Linked DNA regions of Homo sapiens. The protein of the gene in region 2 interacts with the protein of the main gene of each other region in a pairwise test. Each region holds a gene or a part of one and is shown on either strand. Other genes may lie near its edges.

The links.
Region 1: the proteins of ZNF76 (region 2) and KPNA3 interact in binary tests that used the Homo sapiens proteins (3 or more experiments, as listed by UniProt).
Region 3: the proteins of ZNF76 (region 2) and FHL2 interact in binary tests that used the Homo sapiens proteins (3 or more experiments, as listed by UniProt).
Region 4: the proteins of ZNF76 (region 2) and LHX4 interact in binary tests that used the Homo sapiens proteins (3 or more experiments, as listed by UniProt).

The regions. Positions count from the first base shown.
Region 1 is NC_000013.11:49,789,643-49,797,183, reverse strand, and holds the start of KPNA3 (importin subunit alpha-4), read left to right. Parts: upstream 1-4,501; 5' UTR 4,502-4,677; coding exon 4,678-4,746; intron 4,747-5,115; exon of another isoform or gene 5,116-5,792; intron 5,793-7,541. UniProt on the Homo sapiens protein: Functions in nuclear protein import as an adapter protein for nuclear receptor KPNB1. Binds specifically and directly to substrates containing either a simple or bipartite NLS motif.
Region 2 is NC_000006.12:35,276,735-35,283,734, reverse strand, and holds part of ZNF76 (zinc finger protein 76), read right to left. Parts: intron 2,680-7,000; 5' UTR 2,584-2,679; coding exon 2,511-2,583; intron 1-2,510. UniProt on the Homo sapiens protein: May be involved in transcriptional regulation.
Region 3 is NC_000002.12:105,361,052-105,368,051, forward strand, and holds part of FHL2 (four and a half LIM domains protein 2), read right to left. Parts: intron 6,689-7,000; coding exon 6,519-6,688; intron 2,421-6,518; coding exon 2,234-2,420; intron 384-2,233; coding exon 232-383; 3' UTR 1-231. UniProt on the Homo sapiens protein: May function as a molecular transmitter linking various signaling pathways to transcriptional regulation. Negatively regulates the transcriptional repressor E4F1 and may function in cell growth.
Region 4 is NC_000001.11:180,225,751-180,233,288, forward strand, and holds the start of LHX4 (LIM/homeobox protein Lhx4), read left to right. Parts: upstream 1-4,513; 5' UTR 4,514-4,779; coding exon 4,780-4,855; intron 4,856-7,538. UniProt on the Homo sapiens protein: May play a critical role in the development of respiratory control mechanisms and in the normal growth and maturation of the lung. Binds preferentially to methylated DNA.

The DNA.
Region 1 (7,541 bases), on a different chromosome or scaffold from region 2:
ATCTGAGCAAGTCAAATGGCAAAGATGTAAAAACTGGAAAGGTTAAGATATACTTGGAAAAAGGTGAGCAGAACATGTTAGCTGAAGCATGAGCAATGTGCAGGGGAACCAAAAATAAGAAAAAAGTATCTTGCACTGTGGCTGCATCACATATGATCTTAACCACTAGACAAGTTTATTTATTTTAATATGTATATTTTTTGAGGTGGAGTTTTGCTCTTGTTGCCCAGGCTGGAGTGCAGTGGTGCGATCTCGGCTCACTGTAACCTCCCTTTTCCAGGTTCAAGCGATTCTCCTGCCTCAGCGTTCCAAGTAGCTGGGATTACAGGCGTTGGCACCGTGCCTGGCTAACTTTTTGTATTTTTTTTAGTAGAGACGGGGTTTCACCATGTTGGTCAGGCTGGTCTTGAACTCCTTTTTTTTTTTTTTTTTTTTGATGGAGTCTTGCTCAGTTGCCCAGGCTGGAGTGCAGTGGCCTGATCTCGGCTCACTGCAAGCTCCGCCTCCTGGGTTCAGGCCATTCTCCTGCCTCAGCCTCCCGAGTAGCTGGGACTACAGGTACCCGCCACCACGCCTGGCTAATTTTTTTGTATTTTTAGTAGAGACGGGGTTTCACCATGTTGGCCAGGATGGTCTCGATCTCCTGACCTCGTGATCCACCTGCCTCGGCCTCCCAAAGCGCTGGGATTACAGGCATGAGCCACTGCGCCTGGCCTGGTCTTGAACTCTTGACCTCAGGTGATCCACCCGCCTCGGCCTCCTAAAGTGCTGAGATTACAGGCGTGAGCCACGGAGCCTGGCCCTAGACTGAGTTTATAAATGATTTGACAGACAATGGCAGAGGAGAAGGGTATGCTGATTGGGAGCAGAGATGAAGTCAGGAAGATCTGGAGAAGTGAGTCAGATTGCTGTGGAGGGATTGGGGAGGCAGGTGGACTGCTTAGGAGGTGTTAAGGTAGTCTCGTGGGTGGCATGGGAAGAAGAGAGAGATGCCAGAAACACTGAGTGGTGAATTAACATGGTGACTAGGTGAGGGAGTTGAGGGAGAGAGACAAGAAGTAAAGACGGCTCTTAGCTTGGAGAGGTGTCCCTGGAAGAATGGTTATGCCAGTAATAGAGGGGTGAGTTTGCAGAAAGAAGCTGACTTAGGAGGCAAATCATGAAGTCCTTTTCCCATCTGTTATGCTTGTGTTGCCTACGGCATACTGCTACCTGACTGACTGCTGGCATGACTCCCCATGCCTTGGGAAGGTGGAGAGTGAGTCAGAGGATTTGATTGACCCCTGGGCTGAGGGCCCTTCCTTCCTGTCTCCCCCGAGACCCCCTAGTCCTTCATACATGTGCCCGATGAATACAATGCTTGGTATACAGTAGACACTCACAATATGTGTGGAAAATAAATCCATTTAAAAGAAGAGCTGTCCAGAGAAGTTTCAGGCCAAGGATGATGATTAGAGTGAGGCAAAAGAGAAGGAGATAGTTTCTAACAATGAGAAGCACCAAATTTGAGTCCCTGGAGGTGGTCATTTCCCAGAGATTAAGGTCTCCAAGGTCTGGTGCAGGCTTGCACTTTTTACCACTTGAGTGGTAAAAAACTTGGTGAAGTTAAGGATGTAGAAAGACTGTGGTGTCAGGGTGCCACATTTGTGAATGCTGAAGTTACCAGGGGTACTGGCAAAGAATAAAAATGAGTAAACTAGATCCAGGCAAAAGGGCAGCCCTGCTTTGGACTGGGTGTGAAGAAAGGTGGCATAAAGTAACCTGAAAAGGGAATACCTACTAAATTATAATAGAGACTGAGCAACAGTCTGAAAATTTCTCTTCCATTTAGCCAAGGAGAATGGCAAACACACAAGTTCTGTTTCCTTAAAACCCAGAGTTGAGCTAATGTATTCTTTCTTTTTTCTTTTTTTTGAGACAGAGTCTCATTCTGTTACCCAGGCTGGAGTGCAGTGGCGCAATCTCAACTCACTGCAACCTCCGCCTCCCAGGTTCAAGCGATTCTCCTGCCTCAGCTTCCTGAGCACCTGTGACTACAGGCATGCACCACCATGCCTGCCTAATTTTTGTATTTTTGTAGAGAAAGGGTTTCACTATGTGGGCCATGGTTGGCCAGACTGGTCTCAAACTCCTGACCTCAGGTGATCCTCCCACCTCAGCCTCCCAAAGTGCTGGGATTACAGGCATGAGCCACTGTGCCCTGCCTAATGTATTCCTTCTAAATTCATAGCTGGTGTGTGTGTGTGTGTTTCCCTTCAAATGAGTGGTTAGACTAAGATCAGGTGTTGCAAACTGAGGACCTGATATTCTGAAGTGACTGAAATGCTTAAGTCCATTAACAAAATGTGAATTAACATTTAAAAATAAAGAGAAAAAGAATCTACCTTTTTGGTTTTCCTTGAAAAGTGGAATCTTCTGGCAACACTGGGCCACAGTCCAGTATGACCAGAGGATCTGAAGCCTGTGTTTATCAATAGGCCACACCCCACCACTCACAAGACGAATGCCCCTGGACATAGCTTGGCCACCAAAGGCTTCTGAATTCCTGACTTCTGGGCCTCAGGTTCTTTAAGGCCCTTTCGCTTTTTTTTTTTTTTTTTTTTCTGTATCTCCTCATATATTTATTCTTTTTCTGTGATCAGTGTCCTTTGCATGTTTTTGTTGGGTTGTTTGAATTTTTTATTTTTATTTTTTGGGGATGGAGTCTCACTCTGTCGCCTAGGCTGGAGTGCAGTGACACGATCTCAGCTCACTGCAACCTCCGCCTCCCAGGTTCAAGCAATTCTCCTGCCTCAGGCTCCCAAGTAGCTGAGATTACAGGTATGCGCCATATGCCCGTCTAATTTTTGTATTTTTTTTAGTAGAGGTGGGGTTTCACCATGTTGGCCAGGCTGGTCTCGACCTCCTGACCTTGTGATCCACCCACCTCGACCTCCCAAAGTGCTGGGATTACAGGCATGAGCCACCGCGCCCAGCCAAGGCCCTTTCGCTTTAAAGATTGTCCTTTTTGATCTCTTCATGGTATAGTCCTACCAACTTTTGACCTCAGTTCAATTATAAGTACTACAACATTACATACCTGCTCATGTCTACCATAGATTCTGAAAATTAACATACAAGCAAATGAAGCCCACCTGCTCCAGAAAGTAGCTTTTTGTTTTTGTTGTTGTTGTTTTTGTTGTTTTGTTTGAGACAGAGTCTCCCTCTGTCGCCAGGCTGGAGTGCAGTGGCGCCATCTCGGCTCGCTGCAACCTCCGCCTACCGGGTTCAAGCGATTCTCCTGCCTCAGCCTCCAGGCATGCGCCACCACGCCCAGCTAATTTTTGTATATTTAGTAAAGAAGGGGTTTCACCATGCGGGCCATGGTTGGCCAGACTGGTCTCGGTCTCTTGACCTTGTGATCTGCCCTCCTCGGCCTCCCAAAGTGCTGGGATTACAGGCGTGAGCCACCACACCCGGCCGAAAGCAGCTCTTTATCAGTGTAATCCATCCAAATTTCCCTCTTTCATTCTTTCGATGCCCCCAGAGGGAGTGGGAGTGCTACACAGGAGAGTCTGCGGACCAGGGCTGGGCTGCTGCCTGAAGGCTAAGATTCTGTGTGGTGGTAGAACAAGAAGTGTTGGGGGGCATGTAAATACAGGGACTGCCAGAGTGAAGGTTGCAGAACCGGGCTTGGAAGGATGATGAAGAAACTGGGCGACACTAAAGCGCCAGTTCAACAAGTATTGCGTATCTACGACGTGGTAGGCATTGTTTTGACACTAGAGATTCAGCAGTAATTCAACCAAAGTACCTGCTCTCATTGAGCTGAATTTCCGCGCGGGCACCTAGGTAACGCATATAAACACTCGTATCACATACATACACATGTACATGTCAGGTAGAAATGCTATTTATAAAACTGAAGCAGAGCATGGGAAGAGCGAATGAAGGTGGCTATTTGAGAAGACCCCCAAAAAAGCGAGACTGCAAAGCACTCGCGGTTGTTCCTTTTCTGATCTTCTAGCTACAGGCAGCGAGGTGCGCTCCCAGGAAGGCCCGCCCTCTTCCTCCTGATAGGGCGCAAGGTGCCAGGGACGCTCCCCCGCTCTTCCCCGCCCAGAGGCGGCCTTGTGGGGGCGGAGCTTTGTGCCCAGCAACATGAGCGCGGCGCGCAAAGAGCCGCGCGCGGAAGGGTCCCGGCATTCTCCTCGTTCTCACTAGGCGTGGAGAATTACTCCAGGCGGATCGTGGCATGATGGGAACTGTAGTTGACGACCGCCGCCCCGCGCCTGAGGGGCAGTAAAAGTCGCCAGGTCCGGCTCCATTTCTGGCACAAAACTTGCAGCACCGAGGGGTTGTGGAGAGCCCTTGCAGGGGAAGAGGGCAGGGTCATCCCGAGAACCAACGGGCACGTATAGCCCGGCGAACGCCCAAGCCGGTCACCGCCCCCGGTCACGTGTCGCCAGCCTCCGCGGCCGCGCGCCGCTCTCAGCACCGTTCCCGCCCCACCCGGCCCGGCAGTCGGCCCGCGCCTCCCCCGGCGCTACTGCCACCTCGCGCTCGGAGGCGTCACAGAACGTGCTCTTCTCTCCCCTCCCCCCTCCCGCTCTCCCCCTCCTCCCCCTCCCGCTCCAAGATTCGCCGCCGCCGCCGCCGCAGCCGCAGGAGTAGCCGCCGCCGGAGCCGCGCGCAGCCATGGCCGAGAACCCCAGCTTGGAGAACCACCGCATCAAGAGCTTCAAGAACAAGGGCCGCGATGTGGAAGTGAGTGTGCTTCCGCGGTCTGGGCCCGCCTGGCCGCGCCGGCCCGGCGACGCGGGGAGGGGCGGGGGGCCGGCGCCGGGCTGGTTCTCGTCGGCTTGTGGTCGGCCGGAGTTGGCCGCCGCCTCCCGTCACCGCGGCCCCGGGCTGGGCGGAGCGGGCGGCGAGACGCCGGCCGGGCTGCAGTCACCCCCCGGAGCTGCCGGCGCGGCGACCGGGAAATGCCGGCGTTTTCGGCCCCGTCACGCGGGCGCGGCCTGGTGTCGGCGAGGAGGGGATGTGGAGCTGAGGCGGGGTCCGCGGGCCAGGGCCGCCCGGATGAACGGGGATGCTGCCGCCCGGGCCCTCCGACCGCACAGCCGAGGGGGCGGCCGCTGCTTGCGCCCGCCACCGGTGCAACCTTCCGTCCGGTGCAGCCCCCTCTGCGCCTCCCGCGCGGCTCACATGGAGCCTCGGCTCTGCCGGTCCGGGCTCCTACCTTCTGCGAGCCGGGCCCAGGCGGGCGGTGGCGGCCCGCAGAGGGGGGTGGGGACCAGCCGGGTAACTGACTTGTTTGAGGGTGATCGATGGGGGAGGGTAGGATGCGCCAGGACCATTTTCTTATATTCCAGTGCTCGTCTTTGGACTAGTCGTGCCGAGCTGTTGCAGCTCATACTCCTGCAACTGCTGGCATTTGGAGCGAGCTGAAGGTGGACAATAGTTTGCCATCTATTGTGTTCAGGCTTCGGAAAAGAGGTTGCTCCGACCTCCGCTCATAGGACTTGTTTTCTTAGCCTTTCTTGGAGTGGGGTGTGCATAGGGTGATAATTTCTTTGACACGTTTTACTAAAATAAATTGGATACACAGGTTCATAATTCTCTTACATACCTCTTGCTCCAAGCTAGTAGAATTTCCAAGTGGTTGCAAAACTAAACATTCATCGCGGTCACTCAGTTAGTTGCTACTCAGCATGTTGCCATTGTCTCATTAAGGTGACATTAGCAGGTACTATTTGCAAACTCGGCTTATTGAGGCAGCGCTAGAGGTCTCTCTGCAGCTACTGAAAACAGTAAGTATAATGCACAAACTTCACTGGGACCGTGACCTTTGGATTTGTTAGGGGGAAAATGGTTTTAAGGCCGCAGCCTTCTTTGCTAATACTAGGCGACATGATTTGCAGTTTTGTAATTTTTGATAAGCTAGTGTGATTAAGAGGTGTGTTTTATCCTGTCTTAAGGAAGGTTGTGGGGTAAATATACCATTCAGTGTTCTATTTTGTAGAGAAACAGACAAACTCAGGCCGTTTTTCAGAGCTACAAAATTAAATACTAGTAGGAAAGAACCTAGGGAGATATCCGTGGAATTCCCATTTAAATGAGTCAAATAAAGATCATATATTCTTTCCTGGTCATGGTTAAATACCCTTTGTAAGAAATACATCTAAGCGAAAGTAAAACTTGGGAATAGGAACAAGAAATTTTGGAACTGCCTCCTGTTATTGGTCCACTTGATGACAAGTGTTAATTTTGAACTTTTCCCATTAGGAATTTTTCTTGAAGCCTATCCTGTTCCAAATAAAAATTTATTGAAAAATACTCATTGTTTGTACAGAAAAACCAGTAACATTCTTCTCTCGGATATTGGTACAGGTTTTTGTTTCATTGTTTACCTCTATTGTGTTCTGGTAGCTCAGTGATACTTAGTAAGGACTCCTGCACATAATAGGTACACAACAAATATTTGCTGATAAGAATGTAACCCGTGACTTTTAGATGCATGAAAAAGAGCATGGTTGCTAAGCCATTCAGCCTGGTATTGGTCACAACATTACATTTCTCGGGATTCTATAGTGTAACTAAAACATGAAATAGACATTCAAATGGTAGTTCTAATGTGGCAGACACTGTTACGAGCTTCATGATACCTTATTTAATCTGTGTAACAAGTATATGAAGTGTGGCATTATCCCCACTTTACATGAGTAAAGTATTTTTTGAGACGGAGTCTTGCTCCTTTACCCAAGTTGGAGTGCTCAGGCACTCATAGCTCAGCTGCAAGCTCAAACTTCTAGGTTCAAGGAATCTTCCCACCATGGCCTCCCAAGTAGCTGGGACTACAGGCGGACACCACCACACCTGGCTAATTTTTTAATCTTTTTTAGAGACGGGGTCTCGCTTTGTTGCCCAAGCTTGTCTTGAACTCCTGGGCTCCAGTGATTCTCCCGCCTCGGCCTTCCAAAGTGTTCGAACTACAGATGCTAGTCGTCACACCCAGCTGGAACTTTAGATAAAAAACCTCAGTGTGCTTATGTAGCCTGTGCATGTCACTCAGTGGATATGGGTATTATTTATTCACTAATTGTCTATTGGGTATCTATCAATGTTAGGTCTTGGGGATAAGGAATAAGATGCAGTCTGTACTTCAGGGAGTTTACAGTCCAGTGGGGGTGATAATTACAATGCAGAACAACAATTGTTACAGTATAGTATTCCGAAAATGCATGCCAAAAAAACTACTTGGAGGTGAGCAGAAAGGGAAGATACTCTGGTTGATTTCTAATGGATGAATGGGAGTGAGCTGATTGTGAAGGATGAAAGAAAGGTGGCCAGGCAAAGGGCGGGAGAAGGCTGGTGGAAGAAAGGGGCATTCCAGACTAGAGGGAGCAGTAATTGAAGAGTCCTGAGAGAAATGTAGGAGAGAGAGAGACTAAAGGGTAAACTGGGGTCAAATCTGATGAAGGGCCTTTATTGGGGATTTAGGCATATCTAAGAGTAGATAACCATGCTTAGTCTTGTCCATTAGAAACAGTACAACTTAG
Region 2 (7,000 bases):
AAAGCATCAGCAAGCTACGGCCAGCAGAGTGGGTACTGCTTCAAGGTAGAAAACAAAATGTTGAGAAGAGTTGTCTGAAGAAAAAACTTAGCCTACTATTTCCTCAAACAACCAGAGACTACAATGGAGAGAGGCAGTGGGGAGAACAGCTGACTGACAAGGGCCTCATATCCCATTACAGAGAGGTGACCATACGCCCCAGTTTGCCTGGAACAGTCCTAGTGCATTTATTAATAGCACATTCTTCCACTTTTAAAATGCTGGGTTTGAATAATACATTTTATACTCATCCTAATTAAAGATAAGTCTCTTACAATTTTAGGGCTTCCAGCAGACAGAGACAAAAATGCCTCAGTCAAAAGCTTCAGAGGAGAAGTCAGAGAAGCCTTTCAGGAAAGTGTGGTTCTGGTCTCTGAAGGAGAGCTCTACCCTGAGCAGAGGGAAAATCTGTTGTGAGTGAGTGTGTGTTTGCATATGTGTGTGTGTAAGTGCACACTGCAACACTACAGAGTGGGCAAAGAACAGCCAGGAAGACTGACAGAATAAAGAAATACGTAAGAAGGATAGATATAAGGAAAGAGTGGCTCTCTCAGGTCAGGTGTGGTCACTTGCTTTTTATTCATTTGTTTGACCATTAATTCTCAGTGGAAGACTGAGGCACGGGAACTAACTGGGTCCAAGGAGTAAACACAACCCTAGCTAGAGTTCTAAGTTCTTCCATCCCATGGAGACTGCACTGGAGGGGCAAGACCTGGAGTGGGAAGTCTGCAAACAGAGAGTTTCAGGCTTCAAAAGCATTCTAGAGAAGTTGCGTTCTCAAGAAGATGAAGCCAACAAGAACCCACATGTCACAGACAGCTCTTGACAAGAAACCTTTCCAGAAGGGACCCCCACACACTGTCATATGGAAAGTGCTTACTGATGAGATTAAGGGGACTCCTTAGTCATCATCAGGAAACAGACAACTTAAAATGAAATCAATAAACAACTTATCTGTAAACTTAGGAGCAGAAATATATTCTGAGAGTGTGTTGAAATAAAGGAGGGCAATGTTGCAATGACAGTGCTTCAGGAGGACAGTGACAATCATGGAGTCCAGAAAACGCCAAATGAACAGTAGGAACAAGGCAGTATTTGCCTTGTTCAAGGTGCTGTCCAAGGAAGACACGAATGCTATCTGGCTGCCTGAGAACACTGGCAAGAAAGGAAAAGTGTCCCTGGCCTGCAGGCCTTGCCCTAAACACTTTATTCTGACTCCACACCTACCTTGATTTTAAGTACCTTCAGTGTAAGGATAGAATTGCCAGATAAAATACAGGATGCCCAGGTAAATCTGAATTTCAGATAAACAATACTTTTTTTTTTTTTTTTAGAACTTGGTATTATTATTTTAGTATTTTATAGTATTTAACACCCCCTACTTTTTTTTTAGATGGGGTCTTGCTGTTGTCTAGGCTGACCTCAAACTTATGGCCTCAAGAGATCCTCCCATCTGAACCTCCCAAGTAGCTGAGACTACAGGTGCATGCCACCAAGCCCAGCTTAATCCCACATTTATATATGTCTATCCCTTATAAGGGGTATATGTATGTCCCTAGTATGTGGTATACATACGTCCCTACAACATTTGGGATGTATGTATCCTACAAGAGTATTCATTGTTACGTCCAATTCAAATTTAACTACATGTCCTATATTTTCAATTCTGGCATCCCCTAGTGGGGATTAGGGCATGAGATCTCTGCTTGGGTGTTCCTCTCTGAATCAGGAAGAGTATCTTTTTTTTTTTTTTTTTTTAAGAGATGGGATCTTGCTCTGTCACCCAGGCTGGTGTGCAGTGGTGCAGTGATAGTTCACTGAACCCTCAAACTCCTGGGTTTCAGTGATCCTTCTGCCTCAGCCTCCTGAATAGCTGGGACTAAAGGTGCATGCTGCTGCACCCAGATTATTATTTTTATTATTTTTTTTAGAGACAAGAGTCTTGCTATGTTGCCCAGGCTGGTCTCCAACTCCCGGCCTCAAGTGATCTTTCCATCTCAGCCTTCTGAGTGCTGGGATTATAGACATGAGCCACTATGCCTGGCTTAAAAGAGCATCTTGTACATGGCAGATGCTTAGTAGTTTGAATGTTTGAATATACTTGAATTAAGATGATAAACTGCTTCTAGAAAGCACTAAAAAACTGTGACAGGGGATATCTGAAAAGCAGGGAGTCATAACTAACACTGTGTTCATTCCAGAAATATTTATCAACTGCTTATTACATATTAGGAATTCTGTCTTTGAGAGGTATTGGTTCCTATGACTGGGATTGTCTGACTTGTAGCATTTTATTTTAGAGTTCCCTTTTCATCAAGCACCACAGGAGATTCTAATGCAGAGCAAATTGTGGTGGTGGGCAAGGGTAAGCAGGCGGGAGGGCAAGGTGATGGTGGGACTCTTAGAAATGGACACTCCTTTCCAGAGGCTGAGGGACAGGGCAGGATCCTGAGGTCCCCAGAAATACTTACCTTTGACAGCTTGCTGGACGTAGGCTGTTGTCCCATCACTAAGGGTCACCGTGTGCAGCCCCAAGCTCTCCATGGCAAACTGCTGCTCGTGCACTCAGACATGAAGTTGGCTTCTGGCCAGCACCAAGAGCCACAGCTGAGGTCAGAGATTTCCTTCTGGGTCACAAATCTAAGAAAATAAACAGTATCACATTATGAGTTAACCAGCTTTCTCCTATCGCAAAGACACTCAGGGAAGGAGTTAATGAGGCCAGCCAGCCAAGAAGAAAAAAGATGAATTCTTCAAAGTAGTGAACTATATTGGTTTTTATGAAAAGGGCTCAAAATACACATTATCTAAGAATTCTAAAAGTTAAGCATAGAAGAGAAGCATGCCAATCAAACTGGTCATAAAGTAAGAAATCACTGATCAAAACCCATTTCTAAACTTTCTCCCCTTAGGAAGGAGCCCTGCTGAAGGCAGGCAGTTAACCCCACTGCTGATGGTTCTCTCTGCCTACTCCAACATCTCTCCTGTGCTCGGACCCATTTATCTACTGAGCTTGTTAACCATCCTCAGGGAACATCCCACATGTACCACACGTGGAATAAGTCCTCAACAGAACTCACAATGTGTCCCAACCTTCCAGAACTATTGTACTTCCAGTATCCCCTATCCCAGGGGTGGTATCGCCTTCCACCCAGAACTTCAGGGCGGGGGGGGGGGGGATCATGCTTGAGTCCTCCTTTTCCCTTAAAAGTCCAGGTACTTATTTCAGGCATGTCTCACCTTTCACCTCTGGACAACTATAAGGAGCCTTATAACTTATGTCCTCAGATAAACTTTTGTCTGTTTCCAATTCATTTTCTTTTCTTTCCTTTTTTAGAGACAAAGTATCACTCTGTCGCCCAGCTGGAGTGCAGTGGCTCCATCACAGTTCACTGTAACCTCGAACTCCTGGGCTCAAGTGATCTTCCTGCCTCAGCCTCTTCCAACTCATGTTCTAACATTCATGTTTATGCTGTCAGGGTGAATTTAAAAAAAAAGCTCTCTTCCCACTATCTTGGAGCCTGTAGAGGCCTGCTGAGAACAGGACTTCCAAAAGGCAAATATGGGCGGGGTGTAGTGGCTCATGCCTGTAATCCCAGTGCTTTGGGAGGCTGAGGCAGGAGGATTATTTGAGGCTAGGAGTTCAAGACCAATGTGGGCAACACAGCAAGACATTGTCTCTACAAAAAAAAAAAAATTAGCCAGGTGTAGTGGCACATGCCTGCAATCCTAGCTACACAAGAGGCTGAGGTGGGAGCACTGCCTGACCCCAGGAATTTGAAACTGCAGTAAGCTTTGATCATACCACTGAATTCCAGCCTGGGTGATAAAGAGACTCTGTCTCAAAAATAATAATAAGATAAATACAATACATTTGGAAGGCTGTAGTCCAAGGCCATTTTTTGCTAGCTGTAAGTGGGGCCTCCAGAACCAAAGCGAGGACACAGCTCTTATTAAAATTGAGGTATTGGCCAAGTGCGGTGGCTCACGACTGTAATCCCAGCACTTTGGGAGGCCGAGGACAGTGGATCACGAGGTCAGGAGATTGAGACCATCCTGGCTAACATGGTGAAAACCCATCTCTACTAAAAATACAAAAAATTAGCCGGGCGTGGTGGTGGGCACCTGTAGTCCCAGCTACTTGGGAGGCTGAGGCAGGAGAATGGCATGAACCTGGGAGGTGGAGCTTGCAATGAGCCAAGATCGCGCCACTGCACTCCAGCCTGGGCGACAGAGCGAGACTCCGTCCCAAAAAAAAAAAAAAAAAAAAAAAAAAATTGAAGGTATTTATGCTCGAAATGAAACTAATTCTATTTAGGCAAGAGATGTACTTACATGTATAAAGCAAAGAACAACACACTGACTGCTGGCAGCAAACTGAAGAAAACCAGCATAATCTGGGGAAAGGTAAACTCAGGCCCATGGAAACAGTGGCATGGTTTGTGCTAAATTCCCAAGCAATCTTGCTAAAGCTATTGAACACAGAATCTGTGTGACGCTGTGCCCCTCAAGGACTTAAGCTAATGAAAAGTAAATAAATAAAAGTAGATTTATAAGAAAAAAAGAGTACAAATCTAAACATACCACTTCCTTGACTAAAACCCTTCCATAGTTTCCTACAGCTCTTAGAGTCCACCTTGCATACAAGGCTGGGTTGTTATAAACTCCCACAGCCTAGGTACCACCTTTTCCTAGCACTCACACCTCTGGGCTCAACCTACTTCAGTACTCATCACTATCTGTTTAATGTCCGTTGCCTACACAAGGCTTTGGGCTCTAGCCTGGTTTCTGCGTCACAGTGGTTTCTCCAGCAACTCACACTGTGGGCTCTCCACACATCCTGTGAGTGACTCCCTGGGTCCCTCATGTGCAAGGTGGGAAGCACTGAAGCTTCCTGCTGGCAGGATATCTTCTGTACCCACTGTGGTGTGCAGCCTGCTCTAGCAGTGGACCCCAACACTTGTGAAGCCTGCAGGAAGCCCACGGCCTCTAAACTCAGTGCAGTCGTGAAGACTCTCTTTGACATCCATTCTCAAAATTCTCCTGGACTTGGAATCTGGACTGCCTACTGGATTCTCACGACTTACCAACCGATATCTTTGACTGGTGCTACCCAAACTGTTTTCATGTCAGGGGACCTAGAGAGACAGATATTTGTACATTGCATTGCAGATGCTGCTGCTTAAAGTCAGAAGTTCACATTGCAGATGTCACTGCTTCAAGCCAGAAGCGACCAACTGGGGCTTTGACAGCCCTGAGGGGCGAGCGGATCAATATCTTGGCAAAATTATAGACCATCCAGGAGTTCGAGACCAGCCTGACTAACATGGAGAAGCCCCGTCTCTACTAAAAATACAAAATTAGCTGGGCATGGTGGCACATGCCTGTAATCCCAGCTACTTGGGAGGCTGAGGCAGGAGAATTGCTTGAACCTGGGAGGCAGAGGTTGCGGTGAGCCGAGATCGTGTCATTGCACTCCAGCCTGGGCAACAACAGCGAAACTCCGTCTCAAAAAAAAAGAAAAAAACAAAACAAAAACTGGCTGGGCGTGGTGGCTCACACCTGTAATCCCAGCACTTTGAGAAGTTGAGGCGGGCAGATCACAAGGTCAGGAGATCCAGACCATCCTGACTAACAGGGTGAAACCCTGTCTCTACTAAAAATACAAAAAATTAGCCGGGCGTGGAGGGCGCCTGTAGTTCCAGCTACTCGGGAGGCTAAGGCAGAAGAATGGCATAAACCTGGGAGGCGGAGCTTGCAGTGAGCCAAGACTGCACCACTGCACTCCAGCCTGGGCGACAGAGTGAGACTCCGTCTCAAAAACAAACAAACGAAAAACCCAAAAAAACCTATAGACCAACTGCGACACGCTGATTGGAATGCTCTACCCCAGGCATGGCATCTCAACTAGAATTATTCATTCATTCTGTCCATAAACATTTACTAAATGGGCTAAGGTGCAAGGGCAGCAATACTATTATATAGTGAACACTACTATAGAGTTAACCACGTGCTAGGAATGTCACATACATTAACTCATTTAGTTCTAACAATCCTACAATCAAATGCTATGATTATCCTCATTTAAAAGTGAGGGAACTGGAGGCCCAAGACCAAGTTAAGTAACTTGCTCAAGGTTACACAGCTAACTAGTAAAGGAGGATTTCACCCTAGGCCATTTAATCCAGAGTGTGACCTTAATTACTATGCTGCGAAGCACAGAGGTGAAGCTGGGGGTTTATGAAACTTGAAGCTACTCCAAAATACTTTTTTGGTGTGTGAGCCTTTGCATTTTCCAGGAGAGAGGGAAATCCAAGGCTGTCATCAGGGTCTGATAGGGATTAATGGTGAAGAACCACTGGTCAAGGTGGGGATTCTGACATCTGACATCTCTGGTCTATTAGCATCCTTGCCCAGAGCCCTGATAACCTCCACGTGGTCCCTGTCTCACAAGAGCTCTGCTCCTGGCCTCTCTTGGTCTGCTCTGACCTTCAAGCTTCACTCTCTTCATCAGGTAGATTCTTTGGGTAACCCGCTTTAGTGTAACTGCACTGTGTCAGAAGACACATAAGAGAAACCAGGTCTAAAAACAAAGCAGGCTGGGCACGGTGGCTCATGCCTGTAATCCCAGCACTTTGGGAGGCCGAAGTGGGCGGATCACTTGAGATCAGGAGTTCGAGACCAGCCTGACCAACATGGTGAAACCCCGCCTCTGCTAAAAAAAAAAAAAAATACAAAAATTAGCCAGGTGTGGTAGCACATGCCTAGCTACTTGGGAGGCTGAGGCAGGAGAATTGCTTGGACCCAGGAGGCGGAGGTTGCAGTGAGCCAAAATTGCATCACTGCACTCTAGCCTGGGCAACAACAGCAAAACTCTTGTCTCAAAAAAAAAAAAAAAAAAAAACCCATAAATAAATAAATAAAAATAAAAACAAAGCAGACATAGGTTGAAAAGGGATTG
Region 3 (7,000 bases), on a different chromosome or scaffold from region 2:
AAAATTTCAAACCATCTTCCCACCTAGGGCCTAGGGCGAGTTTTCTCTTTCCCTGGGACTGAACTATCACAAAGCACTAAAGGGTTTAAGCAAACGTGAGTATCACTGAAAAGCACTAGAAGAAAGTCTCAATGTGGCTGGAAGAAACCAGAAGGCAAGATTGCCTGGGTGAGAAAGAAAACATAAAAATCTGTGTGTGAGATCACAAGCAGCAACTTCTCTGTGTTGAATTCAGATGTCTTTCCCACAGTCGGGGCACAGGATGTCGTCCCTCTCTGTGAGGAAGCCACGCCCCACCAGTGAGAGGGAGCACTTCTTACAGTTAAAGCAGTCGTTATGCCACTGCCGTTCCTCAAAGGAGATGTATTTTGTGCCACCAAGTCCTGTTAACAGAGAGAAAATAATACCGGATGAAGAAAGTTAGAATCAGGCAACTGGGACTGAAGAAGGAATTCTGGTTTGATCCATTTCAAAGTTTGGATTGTGTAATATGGATAATGTGAATTTCTAGTGACTGGGTGTTGGGAATCCATATGTAAATCAGATTCTATGCACAGCCTGGAGGATCTCGTGAATATCAGAAGAGATATATAAACTGGTTCCAAAACGATGGGATAAGTGCGATCAAAGAATGCTGACTGTGTATTTGTTATGTGTTTTCCCACAAAATGAAACTCCATGAGAAGAGGGAGCAGATTTCTCTTATGTCTTCACTAGGTGCCTCACGTTGCCTGGTGCTCAAATTTTTATGACTTAATGATTGAAGCAGTGAAGGGAGTGTAGAAGAGGAAAAGGTTAATCCTCCCTGGGATGGCCAGGAAAGGCCTCACAGATAAAGTGCGATGTGGGTGGGAATGAGGGGAGAGGGATATTGTCGCAGTGGGAAGATCCTGAGAAAGCTGCAGACAGATAGAATGGAATCAAATATTTAAGGTACATTGGTCCGTGATTATAATACAGTTGGTTTTTACCTAGTGTTTTTTCTCAGTGCCACAATAACCACAATTCACATTCATATCTAATGTTTTACATTTAAAAGTGCTTTTATATAGATTGTATCACTTTATAAAGCTTAATGTTATAAACATTTACCTCAACAGAAGTTACTGCTGAAAACAGCATTAAAGATGAATATGTTCTGGCAAAAGATTACATTTTCCCCCTAAAAGATTCCAAGGGAAATCTGGTATATAAATGACCAGAAACAGATATTTTAACATAGGTAAAGTGTAAATACTGTGCTTTTCTTCATATTTTAATTTCACATGGAAATGTAATGAGCTCTGCATTACACATGAGAGTACTGTTTTAGCGACCTGGGAAGGTGAGTTAGCTGAGTTAGGTGAACTTGGTTCTAGGCCTAAGGGAAAGGAAAGTCAAGGACAAGTACACAGGGGGTGTATAGATGTGTTTCTGTAGTTACACTGAAAAGCCACACAGGAAAGCCAGGCCACCGGGTACTCCAAGTGTCTGCCACCTTCCTCTGATAGGAACGAACCAGTCAACTGAATGCAACGGGATTGCAAATCCCACATCATAAAACTTCTCCTGTGTTATTACAGAACACACACTTTTCTCTCCCCACCCAGTCACTCATTTGTGTAGCGATATGTGGTGACCATTTAAAGGACTTTAGTGTGAACTCCTCTGTTCTCCACACTGAATTTCTCCAGCCTGCTTAATAGTCTAGTCCAGAAGCCTGGTCTGCCAGCCAGCCAGATTTTGGGCTCTCACTTAGCTGAATTCTTTGGGGGAATACAATATGAAAAACTCCTTAGAATGTACCCTCTGCCCTCATATAGCTATGGCCTTGTGGTAGAAGTTTCCCATTAAGATGTTTTGGAGTACAACCGTCCCACTAAGATGCTAGGGGACACTTCTAAGAACACAGCACAGCTGCTAAGCCTGAAAAGGCCAGTTTTTATTGTGCTTTTGTGATGTCACAGGCTCACAGACTGCAGTTTTAGCGATAATCCAACCCAAAGCAGAAACTAAACTGGAGCACTGGCCATATGGTTGTGATCAGGTGGGCTGCAGAGGAAGGAATCATTACTTGCTGAAGCATAGCCAGTGCACCAAGGAGAGGAAAGCAGATAGGCAGAAAAGTCTGCTGTGTTCAGAGCCTTAGGGAGGTCTGGGGAGTTGAGGGATATAGACAGGGTCACAGGCTAAAATGCTAGGCCTTGTTCAAGCTTCCAATCGCCCCTGGAAATGGGAACCCCGGGACACTCACCGCTGATGGGGTTGGTGCACCCAGCACACTTCTTGGCATACAAGTCACAGAAGCAGTTCAGGCAGTAGGCAAAGTCATCGCGAGCTGTGAAGCGCTGCCCAGACAGCTGCTTCCTGCAGGCGGTGCACACGAAGCACTCCTTGTGCCAGGGCTGCTCCCGGTAAGTGACCCCTCCCGTGGTGATGGGCTGCAGGGACGAGGGGGAGAGTTAGTGTGGCCTCTGTGCTTGGCAGACATCTTCAGTCTCAGCTACTGCCACTGGACGATGCAAGATCCTCATCCAGAAACGTCCAGTTTGTTAAGTCACCAAGAAGCTGCTTTACAAACTTCACAGTCACTCGTCACCCTCACCACACGCTTTCATTCCAGTGTCATAGGCCCTGGCTTTCCCGTTAGTGAAACTGGAGCTTGGGGTTGCCCTCAGCCCTTCCCAGGGATGCTGGGGATCTAAGGCATAGGGTGCCTCAGTGGTGTTGCCACCTTTCTGAGCAGGGAAGCAGCACAGTGGAGGGGTCGGGATTCAATACAGCATCAAGGAGACCTGGGTTTGAATCCTAACCCTACTCCTTACCAGCCCTGTGGCTGGGAGCAGGTCATGATAAAGATCTCTGCACTTCAGTTTTCTCATCCAGGAAGTGAGGGTGATGAGGTTAATTGGGCAAGTTGATGAGGAGTCCTTACTTAGAAGCCTGGCAGGGCTGGTGGCTCACACCTGTAATCTCAGGACTTTGGGAGGCCGAGGCAGGTGGATCACTTGAGGTCAGGAGTTCGAGACCAGCCTGGCCAACATGGCGAAACCCCATCTCTACTAAAAATACAAAAAATTAGCTGAGTGTGGTGGTGCACCTGTATTCCCAGCTACTCAGGAGGCTAAGGCAGGAGAATCGCTTGAACCCTGGAAACAGAGGTTGCAGTGAGCCAAGATCATGCCACTGCACACCAGCCTGGACAACAGAGTGAGACTGTCTCAAAAACAAAACAAAACAAAACAAAACAAAAACCCTGGCAAGTGGTAACCTCTCCAATGCCACTCACGAGCCTGTCTCTCCAGCCACTTACGGTGAAAGAAGGAAGAGGCTTAAAGGACAGCCGGGACTAGCACCTGCTGATGCCACAAGAAGAGATGGGCATCTTGGAAGTTTTGGGAAAAATAAGCTGGATGCCTTCATTCTCACCTGTCTTGTGGTCTTAGAACATCTGTGAGGTGAAGCTGCAAAGCCACATGAGGTGGAACTGGCCATCAGTACCTCAATTTTACCTGATATTTTTCTCCAAATGTTGCATCTCACATTCTATTTAAAAATGAGTGCTTGGTGGAGCTGAGTAAGCTATCAGAGAGGAGTGTAGGTGGCCTCAGCTTGGCAAACGAAGGCTGTGGAAGATGGAGTGCAAGCACCTCACAATCACACTTTTTTGCTTTTTATTTTTTGAACATTTCAGTATCATGCAGTAACTCCTTTGGTCTTTACATAAAGCTTGTGAAGTAGGAAAGATATTATCTTAATTTTATGGATGAGTAAACTGAGACTCAGAGAAATTAAAAAGTGACTTGCCAAAGAATTCATAGCTGGTTAATGACGAAGCAGGAACTAGAATTCTGGACTCCCTTCTATCTTGTATTCTTTTCATTAAACCATAAATCATGAAGCATCTTAGTATAACCCACCCCACTGCACAAGAGAATGAACACCAAACACGCTTGGTTGCAACGTATCCATGTGAATGCAGTAGCCTGTGTGTGTAAGACATCTCTGCCTGCAACATGTGTCCTCAGTCCTCCCTTGCTCCGGATTCCATGCTTCCCACCCACATCAGCTAACTCAATGCCTCTGAGCATAGCATGACTTTCTCAGAGACTCCTTCCCTCAACACCACCCTGGCCCCCAACTCCTCAGATTAGTTGAGGTCCCTCCATTCCACACTCTGCTCTTCTCCTCCATAGCACACTGCTCAGTAACTACTGACGGGTTTGACACTGGAGTGTACTTCCACCTAGACTACAGTTAAGTGTCTGCATCTTGTCCAGCATCAGATCCCCAGTGCCTGAGAGGGCCAAGTTCATGTCGAGGAATGGATGCTTCTGGCATGAATGTTTTTGTGTATTTAATGAACATGCACACAAAAAGCATGCATCCCAGAAGGATGTGTTGCTTTCATTTCTGCAAATGAATAAAGCACACATTGGAAAGATGACAGAGGAAGAGCAACTCAGATGAACTTCCGTTAGGTCTTGATGAGAAGAACAAACCAAAATAAAAATAAAAAGGGGAGAGAACAGGGAAGAGGGTTCCTAAAATAAAAGCAGGAATGAGAGCTCAATCTAAGAATAAAGAAAAAAACAGGAGTTTGTGACCAGTCTGGCCAACAAAGTGAGACACCGTCTCTACTACAAAAAAAAAAAAAAAAAATTAGGTGGGTTTGGTGGTGGCACCTGCCTGTAATCCCAGCTGCTCAGGAGGCTGAGGCAGGAGAATCACTTGAACCCAGAAAGCAGAGGTTGCAGTGAGTTGAGATCATGCCACTGTACTACAGCCCAGGTGGCAGAGTGAAACTGTCTCAAAAAAAGAAAAAAACAGAAGCATAAAAGGAGAGGAAATAAAGAGAAATAAAATTTAAAATAACAGTAAAGAACAAATGGGGCCAGGCATGGTGGCTCACGCCTGTAATCCCAGCACTTTGGGAGGTGGAGGCAGGTCGATCACCTGAGGTCAGGAGTTCCGAGATCAGCCTGGCCAACATGTTGAAACCCCGTCTGTACTAAAAATACAAAAAAAACCGGCTGGGCATGGTGACGCACGCCTGTAATCTCAGCTACTTGGGAGGCTGAGGCAGGAGAAATTGCTCGAACCCAAGAGGCGGAGGTTGCAGTGAGCCAAGATCGAGCCACTGCACTCCAGCCTGGGCGACAGTGTGAGATTCTGTCTCAAAAAAAGAAAAAAAAAAAGGAAATGAGAGAAAGACTGAATGGAAATTGGTAAGAATACTCAGCACTTAGAAAAGGTGTGGGCAAGGTGGGGATATTCTTGCCCAGGCCAGCCAGGTACAGGTAGCAGCATTGGGGATGTTTCTCCATGGCCCAGACGCAAGGGTAGAGGCCCCAAGGGCAAAACAGCAGAAGCTGGGTGAGCAGAGTCAATAACAGGAGGAGAGCGAACAGAACCTGTGATGAGTTCCACAGCTGGCGCTGCCCAGGGCGAGTGAGCAGTGGGAGGGTGCCACTCAACAGGCTGATGCAAATCCTAACAGGACAGAGACGCTGGAAGCTATAGCATAATAAGAATTGCGTGTGTCTAAGAGTCAGAGGGCACAGCAGAAAACTAAGCTACACCCTGAAGGGTGCAGGTCGGGGGGCAACTGGGCAGAGAGATGGCTTCCTACAGATATGCAGTTCCCTTTCTTTCTTTAACCCTAACAGAGCCATGACTGGAATAGCACATTATCGAGTAGATAAGTTTATTTATTTATTTTTTTAATTTTTTGAGATGGAGTCTCGCTCAGTCGCCCAGGCTGGAGTGCAGTGGTGGGATCTTGGCTCACTGCAACCTCCACCTCCCGGGTTCAAGTGATTCTCCTGCCTCAGTCTCCTGAGTAGCTGGGACTACAGGCGTGTGCCACCACACCCAGCTAAGTTGTGTATTTTTAGTAGAGATGGAGTTTCATCATGTTGCCCAGGCTGGTCTTGAACTCCTGACCTAAGGTAATCCACCAGCCTTGGCCTCCCACAGGTGATCCACCAGCCTTGGCCTCCCACAGTGCTGGGATTACAGGCATGAGCCTCCATGCCCGGCCAGAGTAGATACATTTAATAAATGATCTGTCCCATATCCATGGAGGCAGACTTTTCTCCTTTACTTTTCTTCTCACATCCGTCTCTCTCTCCTCCCTTCCTCTCCTCCCTCTTCCTTCCATCTTTCTCTCCCTCTCAAGTTTGCAGTTGTTTTCTTGTTTTATTCATGGAGAGAAGCTGAACAAGACAGCTTTGGGATGGTGGCTCCCCTTCCCTCTAACCTCAGGTTATCAACATAAGAACATATTTAGAAATGGTCTAGAAGAAGGCAGGGTTAAACGATTTGATCACAGAGCTCAACAATGTTGATGTCTTTGAAAGAAGGATGGACACCCAGACCCGATGGATAAATGCTCAGAATGTAAGGCAGGACAGGCACAGCTCCCACGCCACTTAAGTATCACAGGTATCCTTGGTTTTGGAAAGAGAACTGACAGACATGGACCATGGAGGCAAACCAGCCAGAACGTGCAAGGGCCAAGGGGGCATCTGAGATACCTTTTTGCACTGAACGCACTGCATGGCATGTTGTTTCTCATAGCAGGGCACACAGAAATTCTGATTGTCTTTGGGGATGAAACTCTTGGTTCCAATTGGCTGCTGGCAGCGGTGGCAGATGAAGCAGGTCTCATGCCAGCTGCTGCCCTTGTACTCCATCTTGCGGGTACCTGTCATCAGGGTCAAGAGGAACACAGCAGAGTTATGGTTAGAGGGGTGTGGAGTCCCAGCAATCTGCCTTCAGAGCTTGCTGCCCTCTAGTTTTATGACCAGAGCAAGCCACTTCAGCTCTTGAAGGCTCGCCTCTACATGGAGGTAATTCCTATTTTGTGCAGGGCGTGGACTTTGTCTTTTGGTTCACTACTGTACACCCAGCTCCTAGAACAACACGTGTACATTTTAGGCACTTAACATTTATTTATTGAATACCGTGGTTAGGAATGTTAAATCTAAAAAAAGTTAAGTCTCTCTCAGCAATGCAA
Region 4 (7,538 bases), on a different chromosome or scaffold from region 2:
GCCTCTGAATTGGATCCCCTGACATGTTGGGTTTGGTTTCCAGAAATGGAATGTATAAATGTCTAGCAAGTACTGGATACTTTGTACTGGCTATTGTTCAAGTTCTCTGACAGAACTTAGACCTGAAGAAAGCCACATCACCCCACCACAGGCCCATCCTCTAGTGCTCAACCTCCAACCAGGTCCTGGCCCAAAGGGACATGGCTGGCTCTGAGGAACATTCCTGGGAGGTCACCTGCCAGCCCTGGGTGCATTGTAGTGAGAAAAGCCCTGCTGAGTCAGCTCAGGGATTTTAATCCAAACTGAGTCCCACCCCAAGGGTCTTTCTGGGCCATTCCATAGTAGAGATTAATGGACTTCTGTGGGATTCAGCCATTCTCCCATTCTCTGGGGGTAGAAAACAGCTTAGCCCCTGCTAGCCTCGGTTTTTTCATCCACCAAGTAGGTATGATGAAACCATGCATCAGTTCCTCATGAAGAATAGGTAGAATTATGCAGGTAGAAGCACTTGCCTTGGTGCCTAGTACAGTTGCAAACTTTCAATAAATATTAGTTATTATTACTACCATATGCTACTATGTTGTTATTATTATTATTATTACCATCAACAGCAGTAGGCACTAAAATCTGTTTAAGGAAAGCTTTTTGCTAGGGGTTCCTCATTTGCAGATGGGAAAGCTGAGGTCCCAGGGGAAGTGAAGCGTCTTGGCTGGTATAGATGCTATTGGAGGACCTTGGGAATGGGACCCAGCTCATACAAGAGGCGAATGCTTTTAGAAAAGCCTCAGAATGGCCGGGCGTGGTGGCTCACGCCTATAATACCAGCACTTTGGGAGGCTGAGGCGGGTGGATCACGAGGTCAAGAGATTGGGACCAACCTGGCCAACATGCTGAGACCCCCGTCTCCACTAAAAATACAGTAATTAGCTGGGCGTGGTGGTGCGCACCTGTAATCCCAGCTGCTCGGGAGGCTGAGGCAGAATAGCGTGAACCCGGGAGGAGGTGGAGCTTGCAGTGGGCTGAGATCACGCCACTGCACTCCAGCTTGGGCGACAGAGCGAGACTCCGTCTCAAAAAAAAAAAAAAAGAAAGAAAGAAAAAAAAGCCTCAGAATGTGGAAAGGGCATTTATTGGCTGAGCTGCACTGTGTGTGTGGGCATGGGGGTGCAAGGTATGTTGGAGCTGCTGCTTACAGGTGCAAGAACTGAGAGCTAAGCTGACTTTCCTGGGCTTGTCTGCCAAACGACACAGGTGAAAGTGGTATCCCCTGAATCAGTCTTGGGCAGAGATAAGTCCCCACCACAGTAAGGCTGTTCCTCACCTACTGACAGGCTAGTGACATGCAATGGGAAAAGGGCAGGACCCCAGCAGGTTCAAATCAGAGAAGCAGGAGCTGCAGAGAGCATTTTTAAAATATAATTTTAAATTATAAAAGTAATTACTATATATGCTTTACATTCACTGCATTTGAATGTTATCTTTTACTAATGTTACTGAAAAATAATCACTTTACAGAAAATCTGGAAAAGAGAAAAAGGAAAAAATTCCATAATACATCTCCCTAATATACCTTTTTCCAAATATTCTTTTGAATAGTATTTTGGTATCTTTCCTTACCTTTTCCCTAATATTTTAAAAAGCATTTTATTAGTTTTTTTCTGCTTTATAAAATAATGTGCTCATTGAGAAAACTGAAAAAAGCGAAGAGAATAAAATAAAATATCCACTGCACAGATAACCACTTTTACACTTTGGCATTTTTTTTACTCCTCCTAAACAATTTTTTATTGAGGTAAAATATACATATAATTTACCATCTTTACCATTTTTAAGTGTACAGTGTTTATGCTTTTTTTAAGAAAAGTTCCTGAAGTTCATACCGCTTCATATTCTTTTTTCACATTTCCTAATAAATCTCAAACCCTTTTCTACATTAAATATTCTTCTGTTGTATTATTTCTAAGACTTCATAACATTCCATTTTACTTAATAATTTACTGTAACTTATTTACTATCCCCTATTGTTGGATATTTAGGTTTTCCCTTTTAAAAACCTTATAAACATCCTTGTAACTACATCTTCACAAACATTCTTGATTATTTTCTTTGGATAAATTTCTATAGAGATTGGGTCAAATGCATCACATTTGTAGCCAAAACGTCCTGAGAAGACATTTCCCCTCTTTGCAATCCCCACTAGGAAATTGTTTTCTAATTTCCCCACAGCCTAACCAACAATGGGTATTATCATTGCCCTTACATTTGACTAAGATTTTTACATATTTATAATCCTATGCTATTGCATTGTGCTTTTAAAAAAAATAGTATTTCACAAGCATCCCCATGTTATTGGGTTTCATAATTGGTTTCCATGATTCCATAACATACTACCAAACAATTTAATCTACTTCCCTAAGCCACTTTTCTTTTGTTGGCTATTTAGGTTATTTTTCTCCAAAACATAATACTGTAATAAACATTTTCACGCATGAAACTTTTATAAAAAATTCTAGATTATTTCCGTGGAACAGACATTCAAAAGTACTACATAAACTAAAGGGTATGAAAAATTTATGAGTTTGATACATATTGCCAAATTTCTTTCCAAACGGATGTTAAGAGTTTATAAGCACCCAGCAGTATTGGTGAGTGTCCAAGCCCCTTTCGCCAGTCCTGAACTCTAGGATGCCCCTCCCGCGCGTCGGGCATCTCACAAACAGAAAAAGCTGTGCACGTGTTGTTTTGTCTTGCGTGTTTTTCACTGCAAATGAGGCTGGCGTTTCCCCGTGTTTGCTTACTAGTTATATTTCTATAGAACACATTTTGGTAAACACTAAAAATGTCACTGGGTTCTTTTGCTTTTTTCTTCTTGTGTATATTGTCTCGCGCGCGGAGTCACCTCGCAGGTAAACAAGGGAAGAGATGATGCCAACCCAGTACCAGGACACACAAAAGTCACTGTGACCTCATTGGAGACAAATTCTAAGCAGCGCAGACGACCAGGCCATTCTCCCCCGCCCCATGCTCCTCCCTTAAAGGTGAGCAGGTGTCCCTTGTTTGGAGATGACACCAGGGGAAACAGCAGGGAAGGTTCTGGAAGGCTGGGGAGGGCACACAGTCCCCCTTCCCGCCTAAGCTGAACCCCACTAGGCTGGAAGGACACGTATGTCTGCATTTCTGGAAGGAAATGCCGTGGGGGCTGGGGGCAGGAGAGCGGCTGGGTCTTGGGGCAGACGGGGTGGGCTTCCCGCGCCTGCAGCCCGGAGGCGTCGAGCGCCTGATGGAGCGTCAGAGGAGACCTCGTCCCAGCGTTGGGCCTTCTGTTGTATTTCTGCCAGAAACTCGCGTTGAGGAGAATTTGTTTTAAGCGTTTCTCTACCTGTCCATGCATCTCGTAAATACAGTAAGCATGGCAAGCCCTTTCGCTGGTTAACCCCGGCGTCCGTGTGCTCACTGCCGCCCTGCACGCACGAGGTCGCGGATGGTTCAAAGCACCCGCGGTGGCAGCCGGAGAGGCAGAGCGGGCTCTAGGGACCTAAGACAGGGCCGAGCTGGACGACTGGTGGCAGGGCGGCCGGGGAGGCCCCGCCGCGGGGAGGTTTGGGCCCCCTACCCTGCGGAACTGGAGGCAAGTGCGGACTCCGGCTGCAGGCCGCGGTCTGCGGGGACGCGCGCGGGGGGCCTGCGTCCCGCCACCTCCGCGCACAGCCCCTGGTCCCCTTCCCCAGCCCGGGCCGGCGCCGCCCGCCGCGTGACTCGCGCGTTCCGGGCCGAGTACGGGCTGTCCCTTGGCCCAGCCTCAGCCAGACGCGGGGGAGAGAGAGCAGGGGCTGGGAAGTGCCGGCAGGAAAGGAATTGGCCAGGGGAAAGAGGAGGAGGAAGATAGATGGAGTCATCGGTTACGGAGCGCGCTCCGTCCGGCGGAGCGAAGCCGGGGACCGAGAGCGCGCAAGGCGAAGACACAGCGACGCAGCCCCGTCCCCGGCCTCCGGACCGCCTGCCCCGCTCGGCCCCGGCTCGGCTCCGCCCCGCCCCTGGGTCCGAACGGAGGAGTGAGGAGGACACGAGCCGCGCGGGCTTGGAACCCACGAAGACCCGCAAACCCAGGGCGCCGCCGTCTCCGACCACCTGCTGCCGCGGCAGGCCATCAGCAGAATTTATACCCAGGGCGCGAGCCCGCCACGGCTGGGCGGAGGCGGAGGCGGAGGCGGGGAGGGGGGGGGGGTGCCGGCTTGCGAGGCCCCGCCCCGCTCCCTGCCGCCCCGCCCCCCTCCGCCCCGCCGGCCTCACTCGGGGCGCCGGGACCCCCACTCCCTCCGGGGTCGGCTGCCCGCCGCCGGGTTGGGGGATGTGCCGAAGGGCGGGCCTCCCTGCGGAAAGCGACGTCACGGCCGCTCCTGCAGTGTGAATGAATCAAAACGCCCGGGTGACCGCGGCCTCCCGGGCGGCCGGCACGCGAAGGGTGGAGGGGGAGGGGGAAGGAGCGGGCGGGGGAGGGAAGAGGAAAAAAGCCAGAGCTGCAGCAACAGCGTCTCAACCTGGGATGTGCACCAACCCCGGAGAGCGAGATCAAAGGGACTGGAAACAGACTGGGGACTGGCGGGGGGAGGGGGCCGGCCAGCCTGTGGAGTCCTCCCTGAGAAGCGGAGGGCCCGGCTTCCACCGTGACTCCAGCGGCCTGCTTGGGGTTTTAATTATTATTTTGAAATTTCTGAATCGAGCTAGAGCGAGAGAGCGAGAGATCTCCGTAGACTGCGACTCGCTGGCTTTCGCTCCGAGATGATGCAGAGTGCGACTGTCCCCGCGGAAGGGGCTGTCAAGGGGCTCCCGGAGATGCTAGGTGTGCCGATGCAACGTAAGACACCCCCCTTTCTCGCTGATTTAATTCTAACAAGACAGCTAGCAGCCTCAGCCGCTGCGGGGCGGGCCGGACGCCGCTCAGGGGCCGGGAGGGGCTGGCGGCCGGGGCGCAGAGGCGGTCACAGGGCAGGGGCACCAGCCAGAGTGCGTTTGAGGGGGCCAGGCTCTTGGCTGTTTGGGGCCGAATGTGAACGCCTCCTGGATCATGCTTGAGGCGAGCCGAGTACCGAACCCCGCATCTCCAGCCCAAGGCTTTTCTTGGAACGCTGGGGAGAGTGCTGTTTGGGGACACCCAGGGGTACGAGCTGTAGGCCAGGCCTGAGGGCGAGGGTGGTCCCCACAAATCTTCTTTCGCCGGCGTGACGGTCAGCGCTTGCAGGACCGCTAGTGCAACTTCACCCCAGCTGGCGGGAAGTTGGAGAGCGCGTCTCTCGCCCCTGGGGCTGGCGGCGGAGAAGCCCCGGCCACACTCTTAGTCCCTGCGGCCCGCGCCCCGGGCGTGCGTGCCGGGTGAGTCCCCAGCCGCTACTGCCCGCGGCGCCCGCCGCGTGCGCCGCGGGAAACTGACTGCTCCTTGTGAGGGAATCTGCTCGCGCATTCCAGCTAGCCTAGGAATGCAGGGGAGGGAGAAGCGACCGCAAGTTGTGAATTCCGGGTTCAGCCTTTGCGCACGCGAGGGCAGGTGCTCAGGGTGGCTCGGGTTTGGAGGGGTAGAGACGGGGGTGTGTGGGAGCTTTGCTAGCCTGCCCGCCCGCTTTCTTCCCGCGCCCGAAATTAGCGAGACAGCCGGAGCTCGCGGCGTGTTTATCCCCAAGTCTCTCTCTGTGTGTATGGGTGTGCGCGCGCAGAGATTTTCCCGAAGGGAATCCGTCTCTGTGCTTCACTCCTGAGCGAGAGTCCCCGAGAGGGAATCTGTGCAGAGGCCAGAACAGGTGCCCAGTCGTCGCGCGCGCGCGCGCGCGCGCGCGACAAGCGCCGGGAGAGTCCTGCCCCTGTGGCTTGCACGCTCAGCAGGGCGCCCCGGGCACCCTGGAGAGACCAAGGAGTTCCTCGCTCCGCTTGCCAAGGGGTTGTACTTCCGCCTGCGACTTCTTTAGTGGTGCGGTAGCTACATCTTCGGGGTTTACTTTAAGTAAGGGCCGGCTCATCCAGGGATGGTGACTACCTACAAACTAGGGCGCACGAGCGCGCCCTCCTGCGCCTCGGGTTTCCATGGCAGGGTTTCTGTCCGGCGATCCTTCGGAGGGCAGGCGTACCGTAGGCTTCCCTGGGAAGTTTTTGAGAAGGGACTAGAAAAGAATAGCTTCATCCAAGCCTATTTAGATTGTTTCTTGGCTGTATTCTACAGTTATTCTTTGAGTGTTTTCGTGTCAACTGCCGGCAATCAGTTCCACGTCTGTGTTGAGCCTTGGGGAGTTTACCGCTAAGATGTTTTCATAGAAGGCATTGGAGATTCACTACGCCCCACACCCCGCACACAGGCAGGGACAGAGTGGGTTCTCAGCCCCTGCAAAGACGGAAACAGAAACCCTGCAAAGGTGCACCGAGTCCTTAAGCTGCTTGTAGCTCTGCGCGAGTGAGGAGACTGCATGAGTGGGGGAAGGGTGTGTGTGTGTTACTAGTGTCCTTGGTACCCAGTACGTCTGTGCTTTCATGGCTGTGGTCCGTAGGTGACCTGTCTGTTGGGACCCCAATGAAGGACGATGGTCTCTGCTCTGACGGCCTTTCTTGTGATGAGTGACACTCTGATTGTCTCACTTTTTGCCTTCCCTGTTCAGAGACAACTTTGATGTTCGACGTCAGGGAGTCGCTTTGCTAAAATGCCCAGAACTCACCTTCAGAGCTACAGTTTGCCAAGGCTGAGTCTAGGTTCACACTGTGGAAAACTTGAGGTGTACAAAGGAACTTCCACACCCACCCCCCCAGGGTGGCCCAGGGAGGCAATGTCTAATCTAGAGGGGGTGGTCAGTCCTCCCTTTGTCCGAGTTTCGTGACCTTGGTTGGAGGAGGCATCGGCCAAAATTGAGGGGCCCACTCCCTGAAGACTTCTGGATCCAGCTTTTATTTCCTCTTGGAATGTGAATGGATTGTAGCCTCCCTTGCAGCACATCTGGCCTCTGGCTGTTAGGCTGTTGGTGCTGGGACCGCGGGATAGGTCCCCATCACCCACATATACACAACTATTAGTTTTCTTGGGACTGGGCCCAGTGGCCTAAGAAGGGGGGAAGCTCGAGGGGTTGTGGGGCACACCCTTGGGCCTTCCGGGACAGTAGGCTCTTAAACCCTAGAGGAGGGGAGACAAAAGAAACGCTCTCCCACAGGGGTCCCTCCAGTCGCCAACTAGAAGGGTTTCCCTCTCAACACAGACATGTTTGCCTCTTCATCACATGGAGTCACCACGAATGGAGCACTTGGGGACGCAGGTCTAGGTGTCCCCAAGCTCGGTGCCTCTAGTGCCCTCCCCTCTAGGGGCATTTTAGAAGAAGTGATTTAAATCCAGCTTATTTCGGCGGCAGCTGGACTATTCCTTTGCTTATTTGGGGATGGGTGAGGGGCATACCCTTTAGGAAAACGTTTCCAAATGATGTAATAATTTCTCTCTCATCTCTGGTCTTGCTCCAGACTTGGCCTCTTCCTCGCCACTCTGTCCCGGCCTCCCGCCCCCGCAGGCTCCCGTG